7 linked regions of the Homo sapiens genome follow. The protein of the gene in region 1 interacts with the protein of each later gene in a biochemical or structural test. Each region holds a gene or a part of one and is shown in the gene's direction. Other genes may lie near its edges. The genes, in order: RXRA, NFKBIB, POU2F2, NPAS2, NCOA4, CTCF and BMAL1.

Region 1 (3,500 bases):
CTCAGAGCAGACATCGGGGGTCCCTCCCAGCTCCTGTTCTGTCCCACCCTGTTCTCCAGCCTCCTTCAGATCTTCTTCCAGGAATCAACCAGGGCACTCCCCATTCTGCAGACCCTCAGGGCCGCCCTTGGCCCACAGGGGAGAGCCCAGGCTCCTTAGGCAACCATCCCCACCTGGTCACCTCCTTTCCCCCGCTGTGGCCCACCCTTACTTCCTGGACACAGCAGTTGAGCTTTGGGGTTGGTGGGCAGGCTGCTGAGGCTAGGGGGCCCAGTACACTGCAGAGGCTGGTGTGATTCAGAATCCAGCTGCAGGGCTGGGGCAGCTGAGTCTGAATCCAAGAACGCCCCCAGCGTCTCCATGGAGGGAGCTGGCGGGCTTTCCCCGTGTTGAGGCTGGTGGATTTTTTTTCTCTGGTGACAAGAAGTAGACATGCCTCCCTCTGGCAGCCCCCACCCAGGGACACCAGGCCCTGGGGAAAGGTATCTTCCTGGACTGAAGGGAGCGGCTGGGGCTGTGGCATGGGAAGGGGCTTTGCCTCAGGTGGTGCTGGGTCCACAGCTGAGGAGGGACAGTGGTGTGTCTCACTGGGTTCGGGAGGGGTGGACTCTGTGCCCTCTGTGCAGCTGCGGCTCACCTCAGTTTAGCTGTCACGAGGCCCCTCCTTAGCACCTCGGTTCCCAGAATAAAGCCCCGCAGGCAGACCCTAGAGGGAGAGGAGAGGAGCCCACCCTCCGGGCAGGGCCAGGCAGGCCTGGCAGGGGCGGCACCTGGGCCTGGGTTCCAGCCCACTCCCTCTCGGGGTGTCTGGGAGTCCTTGCCTTGGCTTGGCCCATCTCAGCGGCCCTCGGGCCACGCCGGGCTCTCCAGAGGCCTTGGGTATCTGGGGTGTGGCCCTGGTGAGGGCTGCGACCTAACTGGGATGGGGTGTCTGCCCTCCTCCTCTGCAGGGTGCTGACGGAGCTTGTGTCCAAGATGCGGGACATGCAGATGGACAAGACGGAGCTGGGCTGCCTGCGCGCCATCGTCCTCTTTAACCCTGGTATGGCCTTCCTGCCTTGAGGCTTCTGGCCCCGTTCTCTGGTGGGGCAGAGGTGCCTGGGCCTCCTCCTGGCTGTACTTCTTGCCTCTGGCTACATGTGGGGCCAACTCCCACCCTCCTTGAGCTCAGTGTGCCCCCCTCCCAGTGAAAGTGTGGCCATGCTGCCTTCTGCTCACCTTGAGGGCCAGCCAAGGGGGCATGGTCCCTGGGCACAGGGGGACCCAGCAAGGCAGTTGTCATGAGGGGCTTGGTGGTGCCGTCTGGGCTCCGCGGTTCATAGTGTTCATCACTGTGCGTCGGAATCCAGACTCCGAAAGTGGCCAGCTGTGGTTGTGAACTTCCGGTGCTGAAGTTCAGGAGTCCCAAGCCCTGCAGGCTGGGGATGGGTCAGGCCTGCCGGGTGTTCCAGAGGGGACCAACCTCATCCCCAAGCCTCGGGTCCAGGGTGTTTCTGGGGCTGGGCCCCTGTGGTTGAGGAGAGCAGGGCTTGGGGCTGTGGGGCTGGGGCTGGGCACAGGCCTCCTGGCCGACAGTGCGGCCCTTCTCCAGCCTCTGGGTTCTCGGCTTGAAAAGCCTCCTAGGTGCTACTCCTTCGCCCAACAAGTGCTGACACGTGCCTGTTTGCTCGGTGCCCTGCTGGCATGGGAGGGCCCCTTCAAGCTGCTGGATAGGGCTTGCCTGCCTAGAGCTTGGGGTTTAGAGGGTCACGCCCACCAGCAGGCACCCCCGGCACGTGAGGGCAGGAGCACGGTTGGTCGAGGGTGCGGGCCACTTCCTCCGGGAGCTGCAAGTTAGGGGCCAGGGGAGTGAGAGGCACGGAGGTGGGGTGGGCTGGTGGAGGCAGCCCAGGCAGGGCCTTGAAAGTCTTGCTAAGTTTGGGTTTTTTCTTGGGGCCACAGGGAGCCAAGTCCTGAGGGGTTCCAGCCGGGAGGGAGCTATGGGTTTCTGTGTTTGGAAACTCAGCTCATTGCGTGATAGGGGCAGGTGGCTGGGGTGTGGAGGGAGAGGTTTGGGGCTGCTGTGGGGAGCTCACTTGGGCTATGGTGGAGGGAGTGGAGCCCTCTCGGCTCCTGGCCCTGACCTTCTGACCTTGCCCTTTGTCAGACCTGGCTCTGAGGGACCGGGCCGGGATGGAGATGGGCATCTTCTTGTGGGGAGAGCTTGTTTCCAGGGTCATTTTATCACCCAGGCTGTGCATCCGGGCCGTAATCCTGCCAGCTCGGAGGCTGAGTCATGCCACGGCCCGGCCCGGCCCGAGGAATCCCCATTCAGGTCCTGTGTGGTCTGGTTGCTAGAGCTGGGGCACCAGCAGGACCTGGGCACCGGCTTGCAGGGAGGGTGAGATTGTCTGGCACAAGCAGGGTCCAGGCACAGGCTTGCAGGGAAAGCGAAGAGACCAGGGCACAGGCATGCAGGGAGGGCGAGGAGACTGGCTGGAGCGGAGGCAGCTGGGGGAGCCAGGTACGTTGCCAAGGAGCCCAGGACACAGGCCAAGGTGGCATTCACAGGGGGTCCCTGGGCCTTGGGGGCCAAGGTGGCATTCACAGGGGGTCCCTGGGCCTTGGAGGTTTTGGTGGCTGCAATCTTAGCCTCTCTGTCCACTCTAGGCTCTTGAGCCCGGGTCCTGAGCTCAGGACTCCGCAAGCACACCGAGGATGGGTTTCCGCAGGGTCTGGGTACTCCTGGGGGCAGCAGCGCTATCTCCCATCCATGTTATGGGGCTGGGACCCAAGGGCAGCAGCAGCATCCATTGTCTCTCCCAGTTCCCAAGGCGGCTGGAAGGAAGGCAGCAGATCCCTGACACTTTATCGATGGGGAAACCGAGTCTCTGGAGGTCAAATAGTTGACCCAAGGTCACGTGGCTGGCAAGTGGCAGAGCTGAGCCTGGACCCAGAGCAGCCTGGCCTGGCCGTGGGTTCCACAGTCGTCCCCCTGCCACCAGGCTCTGGGGGAGCGGGCGGAGGCATGTCCAGCGGCATTCCTCCACCACCTGCTCTGCCCATGGTGGGGCAGCCTGGGAGACCCCACACAAGCCTGGGTCCTGGGGGCAGGTGCCCGAGACACGCCCCAGCTGAGGGTTCTGACCTGTGGCTTCTTCCTTTCAGACTCCAAGGGGCTCTCGAACCCGGCCGAGGTGGAGGCGCTGAGGGAGAAGGTCTATGCGTCCTTGGAGGCCTACTGCAAGCACAAGTACCCAGAGCAGCCGGGAAGGTGGGTCCCGCCCCGTCCCACACACACCCCAGACCCAGGCTCTTGTCTCCAGAGCCCCCACCCCCTGCAAGGCCATTTTATGTGAATGAGAAGGTGGCACCCTCCCCAGGCCCAGCCCATGCCAGCAGGTCCTGAGCAGGCAGCAGGAGGTCCTCCAGGCCAGTGGGCTGTGGCGGGCACACCCCACAGGCCCACGTCGTATCCCCACTGGAAGGATTACCTTGCACCTGGCGCATAGTAGGTGCTT
Region 2 (3,211 bases), on another chromosome or scaffold:
GGTTGGAGTTCAGTGGCGTGATCTTGGCTCACTGCAACCTCCACCTCCCAGGTTCAGGTGATTCTCCTGCCTCAGCCTCCCGAGTAGCTGGGATTACAGGGATTACAGGCACATGCTACCATGCCCAGCTTATTTTTGTATTTTTAGTAGAGACGGGGTTTTACCATGTTGACCAGGCTGGTCTTGAACTCCTGGCCTGGCCTTAGGTGATCTGCCCGCCATGGCCTCCCAAAGTGCTGGGATTACAGGTGTGAGCCACCGTGCCTGGGCAGGAACCTTAATTTAAGGTTTTTTTTTTTTTTTTTTTTTGACATGGAGTCTCACTCTGTTGCCCAGGCTGGAGTGCAGTGGCGCCATCTCAGCTCACTGCAAGCTCCGCCTCCTGGGTTCACACCATTCTCCTGCCTCAGCCTCCCGAGTAGCTGGGACTACAGGCGCCCGCCACCATGCCCAGCTAATTTTTTGTATTTTTAGTAGAGATGGGGTTTCACCATGTTAGCCAGGATGGTCTCGATCTCCTGACCTCGTGATCCACCCGCCTCAGCCTCCCAAAGTGCTGGGATTACAGGCGTGAGCCACTGTGCCTGGCCTTTATTTTTTATTTTTAGTAGAGACGTCTTGCCATGTTGCCCAGGCAGCTTCTTGAACTCCTGAGCTCAAGTGATCCTCTTGCTTTGGCCTCCCAAAGTGCTGGGATTACAGGTGTGAAATAGCGTGCCAGCTCAGGTCCTTTGAGTGATAAGAGCAGAGACTTGGGTCTCCTCCTGGCCCCAAAATCCAGGCTCCCTGTCCACAGACCCCAGGCTGTTTACCCGCGGGCCCCAGGCTTCAAACAACTCAGGCACTAGCACTTGCCAGCAAGCTCAGGCCATCTGAGATAGGCATTTGGTACCCAGGTACCTCTTTGCCATACCCAAGAATTCAGGAACCAGCCCCCAAACCTAATCACCCTCACGCCACATGACCCTCCCCCAGGATCAAAGCACGGTGGGGTGGGGGGGGCCCTCACCTCATCATCTGACGCCAATCACTCTGTCCCCAGGCCACACCCCACTCCACGTGGCCGTTATCCACAAAGATGTGGAGATGGTCCGGCTGCTCCGAGATGCTGGAGCTGACCTTGACAAACCGGTGAGCCCCAACCTCGGGGAAGATGCCGTCGGCGGGAGGGGGCTTGTCCCCTCTTCGGGCCCTCTGACCTTTCTGTTGCACCCCCACAGGAGCCCACGTGCGGCCGGAGCCCCCTTCATTTGGCAGTGGAGGCCCAGGCAGCCGATGTGCTGGAGCTTCTCCTGAGGGCAGGCGCGAACCCTGCTGCCCGCATGTACGGTGGCCGCACCCCACTCGGCAGTGCCATGCTCCGGCCCAACCCCATCCTCGCCCGCCTCCTCCGTGCACACGGAGCCCCTGAGCCCGAGGGCGAGGACGAGAAATCCGGCCCCTGCAGCAGCAGTAGCGACAGCGACAGCGGAGACGAGGGCGTGAGTCAGGAGGAGAGACAGGGCAGCCCAGCTGGGGGGTCAGGATAGACCGGCAGGCAAGAAGCCCAAGAAGATAATTAGGCACCGACCTTGGGCTGCTGTTAGAGAACTCAGGCAGCAGCGCCAGTGACACGGGGCACTAGTCAGGAGAGACCTGGACAGGGGTGGTGGGAAGAGCTTGGGCAGAAGTGGCTGAAAAACTAAGGCAGTGGCAAAGGTAGAACTCAGGCAGGGGTGGAGAAAAGGCGTTGGTCGCAGTGATTGGTGAACACAGCGGGGGTGGGTGGTAGCGCTGGGGGTGATTTTAGGCAGCAAGAATTGGAGAACTCACACTGCGAAAAGAAAACCTTGGGTGGCAGTGATTTGAACACCGGCAGTGCTGGGGCAGGACCCGAGCCAGCGGTGGGGAGAGATATAGTCAGAGAACCCAGCAATACAGATCCGTCCTTGGGCAAGGCGCGGTGCTGGATGATGGGTGCGGAGGAATTTGGGTAAAGGCAGAGGGAAGGGGTGGAGGAGGGCCAGCTCAGTTGCCGAAACTCTGGAGTGGCGGCTGGCTAGAAATTGGTCTGTAGAAATGACCTTGAAAATGGAGTTCTGGCCAGGTGCGGTGGCTCACGCCTGTAATCCCAGCACTTTGGGAGGCCGAGGCAGGCAGATCACGAGGTCAGGAGTTCGAGACCAGCCTGGCCAACATGGCAAGACCCTGTCTCTACTAAAAATACAAAAATTAGCTGGGCGTGGTGGCGCATGCCTATAATCCCAGCTACTTGGGAGGCTGAGGTAGGAGAATTGCTTGAACCTGGGAGGTGGAGGTTGCAGTGAACCTAGATCACGCCACTGCATTCCAGCCTGGGCAACAGAGCGAGACTCCATCTTAAAAAAAAAAAAAAAAAAAAGAAAGAAAAGAAAATGGAGTTCTGAGAGCTAGGAAACTGGGAGGTTGAGCCAGGAGCAGGGGAACTTGGGCTTTGAGGCGAGACCTAATTCTTAGGGTGCTCTATGAGGACATGGGTGGTGGGCAAAGTGACAGCCGCCTGAGCCCCTCTGCCTGGTCCCCTTTGCCCCCAGGATGAATACGACGACATTGTGGTTCACAGCAGCCGCAGCCAAACCCGGCTGCCTCCCACCCCAGCCTCAAAACCTCTTCCTGACGACCCCCGCCCCGTGTGATTTGTTTCATTGTTAATATAATTTCCAGTTTAATAAACAAAACCCTAGTTCTGACAACCAGAGACCAGACTGATCTTGTCTTCCCAGTCCTCCGGGTCCTTCTGGGGCCCATCCCTGTCACATCAAGTGCTGCTCACGGAGGCAGGGTGCGTTTCTTTGTGCTTTATTCACTCAGAAGGGTTGGAGTGGGAGTGCATAGGTGTGGGGGTGCTTCCTGTGTCAGGGCTGAGCCCAGCCCCCGGCCCAGCTCAGACTCACCTCCTTGGGTGTGGTTCCAAGGCACGTCCGCCTCCTCCCCTGTTTGGGTAGGGGTGGCGTGGGGTGCTAGGTGAGGTGGAGGCTTCGGGGTCAACAGTCCTAAGCCACAGGGTGTGTCAGGAGGAAGGAGGGACTGAGGTAGGGGTCAGCCCTCCCTCCTGAGCTGCTCCCCCAGCGTCTCTGTCACCTTCTTCAGTTCGTCTCTCAAGTGCTCCAGCTGCTCCACCTCCTTTTCCTGGTGGGGTCAGAAACGGGGTAGTCAGCACCCACCTTCAAAGGCAGGCCACCTCGGTCACTGT
Region 3 (3,500 bases), on another chromosome or scaffold:
GGATGATGAGAAATTACTTAATGGGTACAATGTACACTGTTTGGGTGATGGATACACTAAAAGCCTACGCTTCATCACTACACAATACATTTGTGTAACAAAATTGCACTTGTATCTTTTAACATTTTGTTTTTTGTTTGAGACAGGGTCTTACTCTGTCACCCAGGCTGGAGTGCAGTGGTGTGATCACAGCTTACTGCAGCCTCAGCCTCCTGGGCTCAAGTGAAGCAGTCCCCAGCCCTCCTGAGTTGCTGGTACTACAGTCACGCCCCACATGCTTGGTTAATTTTTAAAATTTTTGTAGAGATAGGGTTTCGCCATGTTGCCCAGGCTAGTCTCAAATTCCTGTGCTCAAGCGATCCTCCCACTTTGGCTTCCTAAAGTATTGGGATTACAGGTGTGAGCCATTGCACTCGGCTGTCCTTAAATTTATACCAAAAAAAAAAAAAAAGGCAGGGCGCAGTGGTCACCCCTGTAATCCCAGCACTTTGGGAGGCCAAAGCGGGTGGATCACCTGAGGTCGGGAGTTCGAGACCAGCCTGACCAACATGAAGAAACCCCATCTCTACTAAAAATACAAAATTAGCCGGGTGTGGTGGCGTATGCCTATAATCCCAGCTACTCGGGAGGCTGAGGCAGGAGTATCACTTGAACCCAGGAGGCAGAGGTTATGGTGAGCCAAGATCGCACCATTGCATTCCAGCCTAGGCAACAAGGGTGAAACTCCATCTCAAAAAAAAAAAAAAAAAAAAAACTGAAAAATTCCTAAACATCTGCCCCAGCATTTTGGAGAATAATGGATAAAGGACCTGAGCGACAAACATCCCTGTACCCACCACCTGCTTCATATCCTTTATTGTTAGGGCAATGAAGAATCCCAGATAGAGCTGTTGCTTTTTTGTAAATCTCTCTAATTGCCCTCCCAGTCCTTTTTTTTTTTTCTTAACTTTTACTTTATTTGCAATCTACTCATTGCTTAGGACTTAATTTCTTAAGAGCTGTTTTAGATTCACAGCAAAACTGAGTGGAAGATATAGAGATATCCCATCTATCTCTGCCCCTACACATGCACAGCTTCCTGCATCATCTACATCCCCAACCAGAGTGGTACAAGCGTAACAGGTGATGAACCTACATTGACACATCACTATTACCCAAAGTTCATAGCTGACATTAGGGTTCACTCTTGGCATTGTACAGTCCATGGGTCTGCACGACCTACTCATTTTTAACCCGATTCTCTCAACAGCCCCACTGGGTAGACAGAACAGCAGTGATTGTTCCCATCCTGCAGAGGGGGAAAGTGAGGCCTGGGCTAAGCAGTGATTTGGTGGCAGGGCCAGTCCCTGATTCCCAGGTTGAGATGAGGATGAACCACTGCCTCCAGCTCCAGGGAAAGAGCCCTGGCACAAAAAGCTGGCTGCTCCTTCTGGGAGTTCGCAGGCGTGAAGGGACAGTGCAGAGAGTCCCAGGCAATGAGGAAACCCATGTAGGGCAGCAGAGTCGGACCTTTAAAGGGATTAACAGTGCATGTGGAGGGACCTTTAAAGGGATTGACGGTGCTTGTGGAGGAAGGCGGGGGGAGTCTGCAGGCGGCGGATGGAACGCAGGGGCGAAGAGGGCGGGAGGGGGACTGTGCACCCATCGCTGAGCCCCATCCTGGTCCTCCGCCCTGCATCCCACCCACCTGCCCACCCCACCAGGCCGTGACCCGCCCTACGCTGCCCGACCCGCACCTCTCGCACCCGCAGCCCCCCAAATGCTTGGAGCCACCATCCCACCCCGAGGAGCCCAGTGATCTGGAGGAGCTGGAGCAATTCGCCCGCACCTTCAAGCAACGCCGCATCAAGCTGGGCTTCACGCAGGTCTGGAGGCACCTTGCAGGCTGGGCGGTGGGCGTGGGGGCGTGGCCAGTTGATAGATGCCGCGAGGGGCGTGGCCAGTGGGCGGGCGGAGCGGGCCCAGTGCCGGAAGGCCCCACCCTGACTTCGGGCCCTTCCCCGCCCCACTGGCCCAGGGTGATGTGGGCCTGGCCATGGGCAAGCTCTACGGCAACGACTTCAGCCAGACGACCATTTCCCGCTTCGAGGCCCTCAACCTGAGCTTCAAGAACATGTGCAAACTCAAGCCCCTCCTGGAGAAGTGGCTCAACGATGCAGGTGGGACCAGGCTGGGGTTCCCGCGTAGGGGGCGGGCAGTGGCCGCTGGCCGCGGGAGGCCCCTTCTCATGCTCACGTCTCCCCCGGCGCACAGAGACTATGTCTGTGGACTCAAGCCTGCCCAGCCCCAACCAGCTGAGCAGCCCCAGCCTGGGTTTCGACGGCCTGCCCGGCCGGAGACGCAAGAAGAGGACCAGCATCGAGACAAACGTCCGCTTCGCCTTAGAGAAGAGTTTTCTAGCGGTGAGGCCCCCCTCTCCTGGGTGGCCCTCACCTGAGGGGTGGCGGGCGGTGGGCCTCGGGCTAACGAGCCCTCTGCCTGCAGAACCAGAAGCCTACCTCAGAGGAGATCCTGCTGATCGCCGAGCAGCTGCACATGGAGAAGGAAGTGATCCGCGTCTGGTTCTGCAACCGGCGCCAGAAGGAGAAACGCATCAACCCCTGCAGTGCGGCCCCCATGCTGCCCAGCCCAGGGAAGCCGGCCAGCTACAGCCCCCATATGGTACCAAGAGCCCGCCTGGGGGGTGGGGAGACCACAGAGCTCCGCAGGCACCTGTGTGAAGCCCACCCTACCTGGTTGTCCACAGAGCCTAGAACAGAGACAAGAAGAGTCACTCTTGGAGACAGGCCATCACGTAGATGGGCACAGTTACACAGGGACGGTTTCCAGGGAACTGTGGTCTTACATGGGGGATACAAGCACCCCTAGATACACACCGACATAGCCAGACACAGAGTTATCACAGTGCCATAGCCACACAGGAAGGGATATATGTCCAGGGACGTGGTCCAGGTTAGAACACACAGGCTCACAACCACACAGAGGCAGGGAGAGGCACTTATTTGCCGTTCGGGGAAATTGTCACACCCATGGGTGTACTCTCAGGTCCACAGCTATACACAGGCCCACTTGATATCAGACACAGCTGGGACATCCTTTATCCCATCCTTTTATTTCCATTTCTGGGAAGAGCTGTGATGCTCCAGAGAGGAGCCCCTGCCCCCATCGGTGTGAAGGAGGCACTGTCTGAACTGAGTTCTAAAGGACAAGGGAGAGTTAGCCAGCCACAAGAAGGCAAAGAGCCTTCCTGGACCAGTGTGTACTAAGGCCTAGAAGCCAGGGTGTGCCCAGCCCAATTTGAGAAACTCCAGTGCAATTTAGTGTGGTTGGTGCTGCAGTTTATATGAATGAGGTTGGGGAAGGAGTGGGGGCATGTACCCCAAGTTTTACAGTGAAGAGCTGGAACTTGAACCATGGGCAGTGAGGAGGTAAGGAGTGGTTTTGAGCTGGGGAAGGAGAGAGTCACATTTAGTGAGGTTTCTGGGGCTGATGCAAAGGTG
Region 4 (3,500 bases), on another chromosome or scaffold:
ATTTCTGAATGCTAATGGGGTACTTAACTATGAGTAATTCTATTTTAAATCTCAAGGTGATGATGATTAATAGTATCTCAGGGCACTAAATAAACATGTATTAAATATGAGCGTATGTTTAAAGGGGGAGTTTTTAATGCAGTCTTTAAGGCACAACTGCTTCTCACTTGAATTCTTTAACTGAGATTAAGGAGTCCTTGGCATTTTAAGCAAAGTCATTTCTTAGGTAAAGTTCCCCCAGAGACCACTTGAACTTTTGCAAGTCTTAAAACAATGGGTGGTTCCATTTGATGGTTCAGAATAGAAAGGAGAGTGTTGATCCTCTACACTGGTATGAAAAAAACTGTATAAGGAGATGGAGGATGCTGGATATCATAGTGCCCGAGAATCACCTGGGGCCCTTGTCAAACACAGATTCTAACTCAGGACACCTGGGAGAGGACCCGAGCTGCATTTCTCACAGCTACCAGATGCTGCACGCTGGCAAGGTTTTGGGATGCACTGAATCCAGTTCAGCATGTTTACTGAGCATATACCACATAGAGAGCCCAGATGATAAAAAAATGAGAAGATGGGTTGTACCTGCCCTTGAGGAGCTAACAAGGTGAGGTGGCAGGGAGAGAGAGAGGGATTGTAAACTGAAAATGAGGTTCTGGGATGCCATTCTCTGGGGTGGTGGCCAGAAAGGGGCCCAGGAAAGGAGAGTTGCTGGTAGGGCTTCCACATTGCTGACCTTGACCTGTAGTCATATTTGAATGGAGAGCCTTGTGACTTGGCAAGAAATAAAATGCAGATTTTGAAGTCAGACAGACCTGGGGTAGCCTCCCAGCTCAGCTATGGCAACTTTTAACCTGAGACTCAGAGTCCTTGTCAGAAAAACAGTGCAAATGATGCTTACCTTGCCAAGTTTGTAGAATTACCAGTAAAGGACGCGTGTTAGGCCTAACAAAAGTGATTGCTTTTATTACTGTTGATAGGAGAGAGGAGGCTGGAAAGCAAGGAGGACGAAGAGGTTACTAAAATATGTTCCATGTAGTTCACCAATTAGAGATTCAATTTGGTTTACCAGCAAACCCAAGGCCGGCCGTGGAGAACCGGGCCAGGGCTGGAGGGCAGGCAGCTGTGGAAGCTAATCAGAGGCAAAATGGAAAATTATTGGGAGCATGCTTATCTCCACCCTCTCCTGCAGTCCCTGGCTTCTGGTTTGCTTTGTTGATAGCCCTTCCTAGGATATTTTCATCTGAAGCTTTTCTTGGTACTTAAGCTGTAGGTTCTGTTGATCAAGACTGCTAGTGGCAATCAAGCGCTCTTTAAAAATGTAGTGGAGAGGACAAACACCTCTCCTCTTTGAGGGGCATTGGTCTATTCTGTGGTGGGTCACTTTCCAGGATCAAAGCCATCAATCTGTCTTTCCACCATAGTACGAGTTACTTGAAACTAGTGCCGAGCGTGTTGGAATTCACCTGGGGTGCCTTTTATGCTTTGCACTCTAAGATATTGCTTCCTCCTGCCATCTAGGAGAGATGGATATTGCAAGGCAATGGTGTCCTTCACCCTGATATTAGGAGGGGTCACCTGGGTGGCCCTGAAAACACTTCAACCAACATCACTCTGATTTTTTAAAATATATTTTGGGATTCCATTTATTATTTGCAAAGGCGATTTCTCTGCTACCATTTGCCTTCCACGCTCCCTGAAAGTAAATCTTGAAAACCAAGTTCTAAGAGAATGGCAATGGCAGTTTGATGTTTAGGGGGAAGGAAAAGCAGAGGAACCCCCTGGAGCCAAGGCAGGCCTGGGTGAGGGTGGAGACGAGAGAGGGAAAGGAAGGCATCGTCAGGCATGGGAGTACCAGGATGGAAATGGGAGCAGTGGTGGGGGCTGAAGCTGAGAGGTTGGACCCTAGGACTCAATTTGTGGACTTTGTTGCTTTGCTGAAGGCCGTGGCAGATAATGTTCCCAGACCACTGAAAATCATCCAGGCTTCCAGAAAACACAGGCCCATCTAAAGACAGACAGGTGACGAGGTGACAGAACCTAGTGGCGTGATTCTTCTAGCCTCTTCTGAGCCAAAAATGACATGCACAATTTTATGAATGATATTTGTGCCCCTTGGTGATAAAATATTAAGAGCTCGAGGTCATCTGAAAATTATTGGTTTTTTGTTTATAAAAGTACATAGTTTTTGGAAAAGATAGAAAAGAAGGAAAAAACCCCACAATTTCAAGATATATTTTCCGTTCAGTGTTTTTTCTATGCATTGAAATATTTTTATATTAGTTTATCTTAAAAAGCACATGGATATAATCTTGTAAAAATTTTCAAATAGCACAGAACCATTTCTAGTAGAAAGAAAAAAAATTCCCTTCATCCTTGTGGCCTACCCATAATCATCGCCCTATCTTTTATTTGCCTAGCAGAAACTGGATTTTGTACAGTAGACTGCCAACCCACACCTGCCTCTGGAGGTTTATCAGATTGGCCACTCAACCCTGGTGAGGGTGGGGCTGCTGCCCTTGCCAGTGACTGGCTCAGGGTGAGCATGCGGACCCTGTTCTAGCCAATAAAATGTGAGGGTGGGCCACTGGGAGGCTTCTGGGAAAGTTTCCCTGCTCTCAAAAGAGACAAGGAAGGAAACAGTCCTTTCCTTCCACTAGATACTGTGATATGTGGCCATAATGCCTGCAAACTGGGCAGCCATCAGCCACCAGAGGGGCTGGGCCAGGTCTCAGCTGACCTGCGGAAGAATGCAAAGGTGAAGAAGGGCAGGGGGCGGGGAGGTCTCCGTGGTGCCCTTGACTTTCTGAATTACACAAAGAAGAGTCTGTTTTTGAACATGTGTGAGATCATGAAACCATTACCAGATGAAGCAAACTGAGCTAGTTTTTCTGTTGTAGCCAAAAGCATCCCATAACTCTCCACCTTTCTCAGGAGGTAATGACTGATAACCATGGGGCATGTTCTGCTAGTCATTTTTGGCGCATTTACATATACACACACATATGTACACTTTTAAAAACTAAGGCCGGGTGCACTGACTCACGCCTGTAATCCCAGCACTTTGGGAGGCCGAGGCGGGCGGATCACGAGGTCAGGAGTTCGAGACAATCCTGGCCAACATGGTGAAACCCTGTCTCTACTAAAAATATAAAAATTAGCTGGGCATGGTGGCACATGTCTGTAATCCTGGCTACTCAGGAGGCTGAGGCAGGAGAATCACTTGAACCAGCGAGTCGGAGGTTGAAGTGAGCCAAGATCCTGCCACTGCACTCCAGCCTGGCAACAGAGCAAGACTTTGTCTCAAAAAAATAAAATTAAACTAAAAAATAAAAACAAAAACTGAACTCATTTTATGTATATTATTTAGCAACTTAATATGGCATGGATTTTTAATGACATACCTTTTTCTTTATTTTTAAAGGCTACAGAGTATTATTCAGAAGTACAAATAGGACGTTATTTAACCCATCCCTATTAATAAATAATCTATTGAGTTGACT
Region 5 (3,500 bases), on another chromosome or scaffold:
TTATTTTGAAAGTAATCAAAGATCCTTCTGTACCTTTTAGTCTTCATCTCTAAATCTACAAAGAGGAACACATGCCTCATATGACTATATGTGTGTTATAAATAGAAAATGATATTCTAATGTTCTTTTAACTTTTCAGGACACTGTATGCTCTTTGATTCAGGACAATTAGTGTATTTTTCCAGAAATAGCTATTCACATGTAAAGTGTCACTAAAGTAGATTATAGAGTTTTATGGCAGGAACAGTGGTAGAGGGAAGGGAGGAGACAATATTTATTAAGAGTATCTTATGTGCTAGGTTTGGTGTTGGAAAGTAATCTAAGTAGTTAGTAATGGGAGTTGGCTGGAATGATCATTTGAGGGATGATTCAAAGGTGGTTTTTGGTTGTAATTATGGTGCTATTTATATATATTTTTTTCTTTTAAAGGAGCAGTGAGGAGAATGAATACCTTCCAAGACCAGAGTGGCAGCTCCAGTAATAGAGAACCCCTTTTGAGGTGTAGTGATGCACGGAGGGACTTGGAGCTTGCTATTGGTGGAGTTCTCCGGGCTGAACAGCAAATTAAAGATAACTTGCGAGAGGTGTGACATGTGCTTTTCTCTTCTGTTGTCTGGACTCTTGACACAGGGCTGATTTGAGCATGGCCAAGGACTTGGTCTCTCCGTGCCAGCAAAAAATTTCACCCCATGCCTTGCGTGGTCTACTTGGTCCCCGTCAGTTGCCTGATATACTGGTGCCTTTCATCCCAAGGGGAAATAAGGCAGATGCTAGAAGAGTCTGGAAAACCCTGTGCCATTCTAGAAAATTCTATTCAGCTTACTTAGATTACTAACTACTTAGATTTTTGATTACTCCTCTGTGTGATTCCTCAGGCACTGTGACCAGTAAAAATATGAAATGAGTGAGCAGTATCCTCTCAGCTGCATCCTCTTGATTGCATGAAGGATGCACTTGAGCATCCTCCCCATCATCTTTTAGCTGGTTAATGGCATTGTTCTGTAAATGACTATCTGTTAGGGCAAGCCAGAGTGAAATCTGTTGTTGGTTCCAGTAGTATTTTGTTGTTGTGTGTGTTAGACCAAGTATTACATGACTTTGAAACACAACTTTATTAAACAGAAAAAAATGTGTTTTAAAATACAGTTTCTTATGTATATTGTCACGGATAATTTATGGCCTGTTTTGACTTTTTCCCTTGGGATTTTTATATTTAGCCCTGTTTGAATCACTGTTTATGCTTCCAGAAATATTAGTTTATAATTTTACTTAAATTGTCTACCCTAATGGTCTTTTAGCTGTTGACATGTGGTGGCACATCTCTTTACTAAATTGGCCTCCTGTAAATGGACCGCTCATTCTGTGGGGTGAGAAAAGAGATAAGGGGCTAGCTATTAAGTTAATACTCTGTCTTTATTCTGCTGATAAACTTGTAAAACCGTAGGTTTTTAAATTATGTGGAAAACTGAGGGGGTCAGTATTTCCTGGTACATTCTTGTATTTTCTCTTGATTAGGACACCCAAATTAAACCTAATCCTCTTAGAAGGCTGGGTATTGAAGAAGGATTTTAGAGTTTAGGTATGCCTTTATGGCTAGGATTCTTAAATTGGGGTCCATAGGGCTTTAGTGGGTCCTTGGGTGGGCTTTGGAACACTAAACCCTGAAATTATAGGTAAAATCTTGAAAATATACATTTTTTCTGGGGAGATACTTCATAGATGTCATTGGATAATTAAAAGGATTTGTGGTCCCCCCAACCCCACCCCCCCAAAAAAAGTTTTAGAAACTCACTATTCTTTGGGAAACATCATTCTTTGGGATTAACACTAGGAAGCTAACATGTATGTGTTTCCTAGGTCAAAGCTCAGATTCACAGTTGCATAAGCCGTCACCTGGAATGTCTTAGAAGCCGTGAGGTATGGCTGTATGAACAGGTGGACCTTATTTATCAGCTTAAAGAGGAGACACTTCAACAGCAGGCTCAGCAGCTCTACTCGGTAAGGTGACTGCATGGCTAGAATTGGTTTGAGCATGGCTTCTGGTTGCCAGAGAGTATCTTCCTTGTAATGCAGTGTTAATATAGATCAGATAGAAGTTTAATCTCAAGTGCTGTTTGGTAACTTGAGTATATCTGGTGCTTTTGGTGTCATTGTGGCTAGTTGGTTTCATTTTTCTTTTAGTTATTGGGCCAGTTCAATTGTCTTACTCATCAACTGGAGTGTACCCAAAACAAAGATCTAGCCAATCAAGTCTCTGTGTGCCTGGAGAGGTAATGACCCTTTTTGCGTATTTTAACTTTTGACTCTTGAACTTTGGTATACTAAAAGAAAGTCGATTTTGTAACTCATTGCTTGTGTTATATTTAACTTCTGTGTTGCTAGGATAAGATCATTCTGCTTCATGTATTTAATATTATACTTGCTGATACATGAATAAGCCATCTATCTTTGGTTGAGTTTCTTAGAGAAGTGTAATCATTTAAAATTACTCACAATTTGGCTTTTGTTTTAGATGAAGTTGATGAAACAGATATTCCTTAAAAATAGCCAATTTTGTTTTTTTTTCCCCAGACTGGGCAGTTTGACCCTTAAGCCTGAAGATTCAACTGTCCTGCTCTTTGAAGCTGACACAATTACTCTGCGCCAGACCATCACCACATTTGGGTCTCTCAAAACCATTGTGAGTAATCTCATATGCTTCACTGGGCACTTCTCATATCTGTGGCCTCACAGCTGGTCTTAAAAAAAATTGCTATGAATAGTGACTTTCTTGAGAATTTGATTAGCTTCAAAAATTTCATGTTCTCAGCTGGGCGTGGTGGCTCACGCCTGTAATCCTAGCACTTTGGGAGGCCGAGGAGGGCGGATCACTTGAGGTCAGAAGTTCAAGACCAGCCTGGCCAACATGGTGAAAACCCATCTCTATTAAAAATACAAAAAAATTAGCTGGGCGCCTATAATCCCAGCTACTTGGAAGGCTGAGGCAGGAGGATCGCTTCAAGCTGGGAGGCGGAGGTTGCAGTGACCTGAGATCGTGCCACTGCATTCCAACCTGGGCGACAAACAGTGAGACTCCGCCTAAAAAAAAAAAAATTCATATTCTGATTAAGTTGCCTAGGTTGGTAGTTCTTGGAATGTAGTACAGACTCAGTGATACTCTTTGGAATGCCTCATGTATCTCTCTAAATACTTTTGAAATATTTTTTGTAAAATTTATGGCTTGAATAGTTTTTAATAAAGAACGAAACGTTTGGGTCTTGTTAAAAGTGGTAATACAACCAATTCTGGTAAAGATTTTTTATATAATAGTTATGTGGTAGAGTATTCTCAAATTTGATAACTACTTTGTAAGTCATGGAATTTAGTGTGAACAGTATTTCTAATGAAATGGTAATGCTTTAACATTTTTGAAATTTGGAATTATAATTTCACTTTTTTGGCAGCATAGCATAAATAACATGATTAAATTATCTCTATTTTGTAGCAAATTCCTGAGCACT
Region 6 (4,152 bases), on another chromosome or scaffold:
TGTGGCCCAGGCTGGAGTGCAGTGGCGGATCTCAGCTCACCGCAACCTCCGCCTCCCAGGTTCAAGTGATTCTTCTGCCTCAGCCTCCCGAGTAGCTGGGATTACAGGTATGCGCCACCACGCCCAGCTAATTTTATATTTTTAGTAGAGTCAGGGTTTCTCCATGTTGGACAGGCTGGTCTCAAACTCCCAACCTCAGGTGATACACCCACCTCAGCCTCCCAAAGTACTGGGATTACAGGTGTGAGCCACCACGCCCAGCTGCCAGTTTCTTATTTCTTGTAGAGATAAGGTCTCACTATGTTACCCAAGCTGGTCTTGAACTCCTGAACATGAGTGATCCTCCAACCTCAGCCTCCCAACGTGCTGGGATTACAAGTGTGAACCACCGTGCCCAGCCTTAAATTGATTTTTCTTAATAATTGGCTGAGCATGCTGGCTCACACCTGTAATCCCAGCACTTTGGGAGGCCGAAGCAGGCAGATTGCCTGAGGTCAGGAGTTTGAGACCAGCCTGGCCAACATGGCGAAACCCCATCTCTACAAAAAATACAAAGATTATCTGGATTGGCTGGGCACGTTGGCTCATGCCTGTAATCCCAGCACATTGGGAGGCCGAGGCAGGTGGATCACCTGAGGTCAGGAATTCAAGACCAGCCTGACCAATATGGTGAAACCCCATCTCTACTAAAAATACAAAAATCAGCCAGGTGTGGTGGCGTATGCCTGTAGTCACAGCTACTCAGGAGGCTGAGACAGGAGAATTAAACCCAGGTTGCAGAGGTTGCAGTGAGCTGAGATCGTGCCGCTGCATTCCAGCCTGGGCGACAGAGTGAGACTCTGTCTCAAAAAAAAAAAAAGAAGGAAAAAAAAATTACCTGGGCATGGTGGTGCGTGCCTGTAGTCCCGGCCACTCAGGAGGCTGAGCCACGAGAATTGCTTGAATCTGGGAGGCAGAGATTGCAGTGAGCCGAGATCGCGCCACTGCACTCCAGCCTGGGCAATAGAGTGAGACTGTCTCAAAAAAAAAAAAAGAAAGAAAGTGTATATATATATATATATATATTTATAAAACAAGACTTCAAATAATATATAATTGTTTTCTTTCATCTTCCACCACCCTTCTCCTTGCCCCACCACCTGTGCTTCCTGATTTCATGAAAAGAAAATGCTGAACCAGATCTGGACGACAATGAGGATGAGGAGGAGCCTGCCGTAGAAATTGAACCTGAGCCAGAGCCTCAGCCTGTGACCCCAGCCCCACCACCCGCCAAGAAGCGGAGAGGACGACCCCCTGGCAGAACCAACCAGCCCAAACAGAACCAGCGTAAGTTGTTCATCTCTGCTCTGGAGGCTGGCGTCTTCTCCGAGCATGTGGGGGAGCCAGATGGGTCCTTGTTCTTTGGGGATGTGGGAACTAAGCCATGAGAACAAGTTAAGGGCATGTCGAGAACAAACTCTCAGGAAATGGCTTTTTAGGAGTTTTTACTGAGGAACATCTGAGGAAGTCTTTAGAGGCCTGTTACATTTCAAGAAGAAGTCCAGAGTAGAAGGGTACTTGTGTTCTGCAAGATGGGTACTGTTAATGTGGGCGGGTTTTGAAAAACAACCAAAGTCACAGTCAGCTGGCAGAATGGATGCGGTAATGAATATAAAAGAGCCAAATCGTAAAGGTTGGAGAGGGAAAGCAGTTTCTGCACTGAGATTGCCCCTTCTAAGAAACTCAGGGTCAGGCGGTGGCTCATGCCTGTGATCCCAGCACTTTGGGGGGCCAAGGCGGGAGGATCACCTGAGGTCAGTAGTTCCATACCAGCCTGGTCAACATGGTGAAACCCCATCTCTGCTAAAAATACAAAAATTAGCCAGGCGTAGGGGTGGGCACCTGTAGTCCCATCTACTCAGGAGGCTGAGGCAGGAGAATTGCTTTAACCCGGGGGGCAGAGGTTGCAGTGAGCTGAGATCATGCCCGTGCACTCCAGCCTGGTCATAGAGCAAGACTCCGTCTCAAAAAATAAAATAAAAAATAAATTGACTGTCTCTGGACCGCTATCTAATAAGGCTGTCCTGCATTGCTGACATCCCGTTCGCTGTCAGTCTAAAAGACCCTTGTGATTCTTGGGGCTTTAATGGACCATTTGTTCTGTCTGTGCTCTTCTTTGCCAGCAACAGCTATCATTCAGGTTGAAGACCAGAATACAGGTGCAATTGAGAACATTATAGTTGAAGTAAAAAAAGAGCCAGATGCTGAGCCCGCAGAGGGAGAGGAAGAGGAGGCCCAGCCAGCTGCCACAGATGCCCCCAACGGAGACCTCACGCCCGAGATGATCCTCAGCATGATGGACCGGTGATGGCGGAGCCTTGTGCGTCGCCAGGACTTCTCTGGGCTGTGTTTAAACGGCCCGCATCTTAATTTTTCTCCCTTCTTTCTTTTTTTGGCTTTGGGAAAAGCATCATTTTACCAAACATACCGAGAACGAAAACTTCAAGGATGATGTTAGAAAAAAATGTGATTTAACTAGAACTTGCTGTCTGATGTTAGCAAATCATGGAATGTTCTGAGTCCCTGAGGGTTTACTGTGAAGTGCTGAGGACAGTGTTGACAACTAACTCGTTTTCCTAGATGGAAACGGAGACATTGACCCCTCCCTCCATGTGGTAAACCACTCCAGAATGGCCACCAGGCTTCCCAGAGTTCTATGGTCTTCTTCCCAAGAGAGTTTTTAATTGTAAATGCATACTTGGGAAGGACTTAGAGTTTTAAACTGTTTTTTGCTTTTGCTTTTCCCTGACTCCCTTTGCTTGGAGTCAGCTGCACACCAGTAGTATGGCATGCTACGATCAGGTTCTGTCCTGAAAGCTTTGCCTCTTTCTTGGCAAAGTTTCTGGTATGGTCAAGCTTGTAAATAACTTTTTTTACATTTTAATCTTTTCCATTAATTAAGAGGTTGAAAAGAAGTGCAGTGTAAGAAAACCCAGCATTTTAATTACTTGCAAATTAAGTTACCACAGACTCTGTAGTGTGTAAATGTTGACAAGGAATTGGATCACAATCATGTAGCAGAATGGCACCCAGACCACTGCCCACCAGTGACGGACATGCACGTGGCAGATCATGATTTCCAGCCCACGGAGCCAGCATTTGAACCTTGTATAATTAACTTTCAGTTATGATTTCCCATCGACATTTTCTTTGCCCTGTTTGTAGCTGATTGTTGTGTTTTATAAATCTTCTGTTAAGGCAGAAGGGTGATTATGAGTGGTTCACAGCAGCCCTTATAAGCTGGGCCAGAAAATTTCACTAGGTCAGTAATTTAAACCTTGGATCTTCAAAAAATAAAATAATGTGAAGCAAAACCAACTAAAAAGTGATTCTTGCACATGAACTGTCACATGTTTAAAAATGTGTTTTTTAGAGAGCCTCAGTCTTACTGATTTCAAACACTTTTTTCTTCTGTGTATTGCTTTTAAGAGAGCCATCAGTTAGCTATCAGACTCTAGGTTGATGCATTTTGTACTTAGCTGTACTGTGTGATATTTTTCATTATTTTAGGACGCCAACATGAGACCTGTAATAAAATATGTAATGGGGTTGAAAGCTGGGGAGGAGGATCTACTGCTGTACAGCTAATAAATCATAACGGATTAACAAGTGCTCCAAAGACTCCATCTTGCGTGATTCCTGCCTGCTTGAGGGAGGCTGGGGGGCTGCATACATGGTTCCAGGCTGTGCAGGCTGCTGCCTTTCACAGGCAACCTCTGTTCCCTGGGATGGTACTTTCTCTAGCAGATGGGACGATATGATCTTGGCGGGTGACTGGATATTGAGCGCATCCTGCTGTAACTGTTTTTTTGTTTTGTTTTGTTTTGTTTTGTTTTGTTTGAGATGGAGTCTCGCTCTGTTGCCCAGGCTGGAGTGCAGTGGCGCAATCTCAGCTCACTGCAACCTCCACCTCCCAGGTTCACGCCATTCTCCTGCCTCAACCTCCCGAGTAGCTGGGACTACAGGCGCCTGCCACCATGCCTGGCCAATTTTTTGTATTTTTAGTAGAGACTGGGTTTCACTGTGTTAGCCAGGATGGTCTCGATCTCCTGACCTTGTAATCCGCCTGCCTAGGCCTCCCAAAGTGCTGGGATTACAGGCGTGAGCCACCAC
Region 7 (3,500 bases), on another chromosome or scaffold:
ACAAAGTAAGACCTGGGTTCGAAGCTTGGCCTTGCCATGTGCTAGTTATGTGAACTTGTACAACTTTCAAGCCCTAGTTTTCTTTATAATGGAGCTAATAATGGTTAGGGTAGCCAGCATCTTTGCACGAGGTCCTACTGTGAGATAATATATGTGAAAGTGCTTGGCCCAAAATACCACTGACAGATGAAGTCTGAGCTTGGTGTCCCGTGACCCCCGCCCCCCTGCCCACAACACACACACTGCTTGCCAGCTGTCTTCTTAGCTGTTCTTCTGTTATACCTCCAGGTCCTTCCTGCATATTGGATCCACCATCTTCTTAGGGTGGTCTTCCAGTCTCTGCTTCTTAAGTTAACTTTTAGGCACTTGACTTGACTCCTGGTATTACCAAGGATTCTACTTCTTGGTTTTGAAAGGTTATCAGTCCAGTATAGGCTTAAATATTACTCAAAGAACTTTCATATACATTGTCTCATCTCACCTTCACAACATTATAGTGACAAGATCCAGGCTCCTCAGCGTTCGTTTTATAAGTATGGCCCCCAGGCTACAATCCTGGGCTCATGGCTTCCAATTCTTTTCACATCAACAACTACCAGAAATCAAAAGCTGTGCTCTGCATCATAAAGCCCCAGCTATTTTTGAGGCACTTATGAAAATTCTCCCTTTTCTTTGAGAAGAATGGATTATAAAATGGATCTGTGAGAAGAAATTTGGATGTGTTCTCACGAGATGAGTCCTGGGCAGCAGGACTTATAAGAAAAGCAGCTTAAACAAGACAGTTAAAACTGACAGCAGTATTAAATGGTGCACCATACCCAGCCCTTTCCAGTCACTTTCAAATTTGGAAGGTCCAAAAATGAACCATTTAGCCTGCAGTTGTTTGTCAGGATCAAGCTAAAAAGGAAGCCTAAGTGAGCCTCCATAGGTCGCAAGAGAGTACAGACATCCAGAAGCACTAAGGAAAATTCAGATAAAGCAGCAGTTCTACAAATGTCATCTGCAGTCTTTTTCCAGAAAGAGAGGGGGCACAAGATCCTTTTAAGGGTCTGCAAGGTTAAAGCTATTTTCTTAATAACATTAAAACGTTAATTTTTTCCCTGTATTGATAATGTGCACTATTCATACTAAAAGCACGGTTGGGTAAAATTGCTGGCATTTTACAAAAATCAGACAAGTGGCACCAAACTATACTAGTAGTCATTGTATTCTTCACCACCACACACTCACAGTAAAAAAATAGTTTAAAGCCAGTTTCATTTAAGATTGTCCATCATGGCTAGGTGCAGTGGCTCACCCCTGTAATCTCAGCACTCTGGGAAGCTGAGGCAGGCAAACTGCTTGAGTCCAGCAGTTCCAGGCAAGTCTGGGCAACATAGAGAAATCCCATCTCTACTAAAAAATACAAAAAAAATTATCCAGGTGTGGTGGTGTACCTGTAATCCCAGCTACTCCGGGGACTGAGGTGGGAGAATCACCTGAGCCCAGGAGGTTGAGGCTGCAGTGAGCTGAGATTGTGCCACTGTACTCCAGCCTGGGCAACCAGAGTGAGACCCTATCAAGGAGGGAAGGAGGAAAGGAAGGAAGGGAGTGAGGGAGGGAGGGAAAATGTCCATCATTACTTTTATAAAATTCTCAAGCACACATCTTTTTAATGCTCTGTGACAAAATGAGAAGTACACAGAACTTGTGCTGCATACCAAAGTATGATGTTTGTCTCAAAAACTACTTGTGTGATTAAGTTGTGAGTTGAACTAGCTACTATTTTCATTGGACACCATTTTTATTGTATATGGTCATTCGGTTTTGGGTATTTAGAATACTTTTTTTTTGGAAATGAATGAAGTGAACCTGTCACTTTAAGGAAAATGACTGACATTTGTTGCCAATGATAAAATCTGAGCTTTCAAGCAAAAATTGGAATTTTTAGAAAACTTGTCTCTGCTACTTTGACCTTGAGATCTTCCTAAAACTTAAAAAATGTTGTTGATGAGATAGGGAGTATTAATAATAGTGATATTTTGATGCTCTATAATGAAATGTGTCAATATATAGAAGATCTGCATAACTCAGTGAACCAATATTTTGTAACTAAACAATGCAAGGTATTTCAAAATCATGTAAGGGTAAAAGATCCATCCTAAGTGCCAAGATATAAAGAGTACAAAACATTCATTGATATGGTTTCAGATTCCACATTGCAACTCACCTTTAAGAAACTTCTACGTGTCAAGTTTTGAAGTGGTATCAAAAAAGAATACAATTATTTGAAAAGTCTATTAAAATATGCCTCCCTTTTCCAACTACTTATCTGTGGGAGGTTGGATTTCCTTCATATACTTGAATCACAAGACGTATCTAAATAGACTGAATGGAAAAACATATATGAGAATCCAGTTGAAAATTATTAAGCCAGACATTAGATTTGCAAAAATGTAAGATAATACTCTGCCTGGTAATTTTTTGTTACTGTTTTAGAAAATAGTTATTTTTCATTAAAATACTATTCATTATTTATGTTAACATGTAGCGGGTTTATTACATTTAAGAAATCTATTAGTTTTAATTTCAAATACAGTAAATATTGATAAATACAGCCTACATAAGCAAAAGTTCTTTGGAGTCCTCAATGATTTTTTTAAGAGTGTAAAAGGGTCCCTAGACCAAAACGTTGCTGTGGAAATAAAGTAAGTTATAATGCCACCTGCTGGCAAAGCCTGAAATCATTGCTGCTCCTGAAAGCAGCAGCTACCAAACTGTTTCCTCACGTATATCCAGATAGGTCTCAAAGAATGCTCTTCTTTGAGACTCAGCCAGGGGAAGGCAGCTGGGGTGAGTGGGGGAGATTTTGAGACAGAGTTCTCTTACTGAGTAGTAGTAATAATCCTCCCCAGTAGCCTGTCTTAACTTAAACCACAGGTTACTGAAGTTGGCACCTGTAGTATAAGAGATTTACTTCTGTTTTCTTCATTTGACTCCTTGAGCTGTGTCTCTTCACAGCTTGTTAACTCCACTTTTTCTTCTTCAGAAATATCTGTCACTATAAGATGTTTTATTCCCTTATAGGGGAAACGTCTAGCTGGGCTCATTGAAGTTTAGGCATTGGTCCTAAAGAAATATGTGGGCATCATGATTCCAGGCAGTTGAATGCTCTTGGGATTTTATTCAGCCTTTAAGTTGCCTCTGTGGGCTCACTAAAATGGAGAGAAAAGAATAGTTCGGGGGAGAGGTTTTTTCTTACTCTGACCATGTCTGTCTAACAGTTCCTTGTTTGAAATCATCCAATAGAAAACTGAAGCCATTTGAAGCTTCTCCCCACCCCACCCCATGCTTCATTTTCCTTTTGGCATTGCTCATAATACTGATTCAAACTTCACACTTCCCTCCTTTTGTTTGTAGATTTTAAATGGAGGGACTCCAGACATTCCTTCCAGTGGCCTACTATCAGGCCAGGCTCAGGAGAACCCAGGTTATCCATATTCTGATAGTTCTTCTATTCT

Evidence for each region.
Region 2: the proteins of RXRA (region 1) and NFKBIB form a complex in vitro, tested with the Homo sapiens proteins (one study listed by BioGRID).
Region 3: the proteins of RXRA (region 1) and POU2F2 form a complex in vitro, tested with the Homo sapiens proteins (one study listed by BioGRID).
Region 4: the proteins of RXRA (region 1) and NPAS2 form a complex in vitro, tested with the Homo sapiens proteins (one study listed by BioGRID).
Region 5: the proteins of RXRA (region 1) and NCOA4 form a complex in vitro, tested with the Homo sapiens proteins (one study listed by BioGRID).
Region 6: the proteins of RXRA (region 1) and CTCF form a complex in vitro, tested with the Homo sapiens proteins (one study listed by BioGRID).
Region 7: the proteins of RXRA (region 1) and BMAL1 form a complex in vitro, tested with the Homo sapiens proteins (one study listed by BioGRID).

The regions. Positions count from the first base shown.
Region 1 is NC_000009.12:134,430,955-134,434,454, forward strand, and holds part of RXRA (retinoic acid receptor RXR-alpha), read left to right. Parts: intron 1-950; coding exon 951-1,042; intron 1,043-3,147; coding exon 3,148-3,253; intron 3,254-3,500. UniProt on the Homo sapiens protein: Receptor for retinoic acid that acts as a transcription factor.
Region 2 is NC_000019.10:38,906,179-38,909,389, forward strand, and holds the end of NFKBIB (NF-kappa-B inhibitor beta), read left to right. Parts: intron 1-1,042; coding exon 1,043-1,131; intron 1,132-1,220; coding exon 1,221-1,481; coding exon of another isoform or gene 1,482-1,529; exon of another isoform or gene 1,530-2,552; coding exon 2,553-2,654; 3' UTR 2,655-2,711; downstream 2,712-3,211. UniProt on the Homo sapiens protein: Inhibits NF-kappa-B by complexing with and trapping it in the cytoplasm.
Region 3 is NC_000019.10:42,094,447-42,097,946, reverse strand, and holds part of POU2F2 (POU domain, class 2, transcription factor 2), read left to right. Parts: intron 1-1,703; coding exon 1,704-1,865; intron 1,866-2,017; coding exon 2,018-2,159; intron 2,160-2,253; coding exon 2,254-2,402; intron 2,403-2,484; coding exon 2,485-2,661; intron 2,662-3,500. UniProt on the Homo sapiens protein: Transcription factor that specifically binds to the octamer motif (5'-ATTTGCAT-3'). Regulates IL6 expression in B cells with POU2AF1. Regulates transcription in a number of tissues in addition to activating immunoglobulin gene expression.
Region 4 is NC_000002.12:100,823,139-100,826,638, forward strand, and holds part of NPAS2 (neuronal PAS domain-containing protein 2), read left to right. Parts: intron 1-3,500. UniProt on the Homo sapiens protein: Transcriptional activator which forms a core component of the circadian clock.
Region 5 is NC_000010.11:46,013,624-46,017,123, reverse strand, and holds part of NCOA4 (nuclear receptor coactivator 4), read left to right. Parts: intron 1-429; coding exon of another isoform or gene 430-443; coding exon 444-584; intron 585-1,857; coding exon 1,858-1,998; intron 1,999-2,181; coding exon 2,182-2,270; intron 2,271-2,571; coding exon 2,572-2,680; intron 2,681-3,484; coding exon 3,485-3,500. UniProt on the Homo sapiens protein: Cargo receptor for the autophagic turnover of the iron-binding ferritin complex, playing a central role in iron homeostasis. Acts as an adapter for delivery of ferritin to lysosomes and autophagic degradation of ferritin, a process named ferritinophagy.
Region 6 is NC_000016.10:67,635,526-67,639,677, forward strand, and holds the end of CTCF (transcriptional repressor CTCF), read left to right. Parts: intron 1-1,164; coding exon 1,165-1,326; intron 1,327-2,162; coding exon 2,163-2,347; 3' UTR 2,348-3,652; downstream 3,653-4,152.
Region 7 is NC_000011.10:13,382,290-13,385,789, forward strand, and holds part of BMAL1 (basic helix-loop-helix ARNT-like protein 1), read left to right. Parts: intron 1-2,190; exon of another isoform or gene 2,191-2,435; intron 2,436-3,399; coding exon 3,400-3,500. UniProt on the Homo sapiens protein: Transcriptional activator which forms a core component of the circadian clock.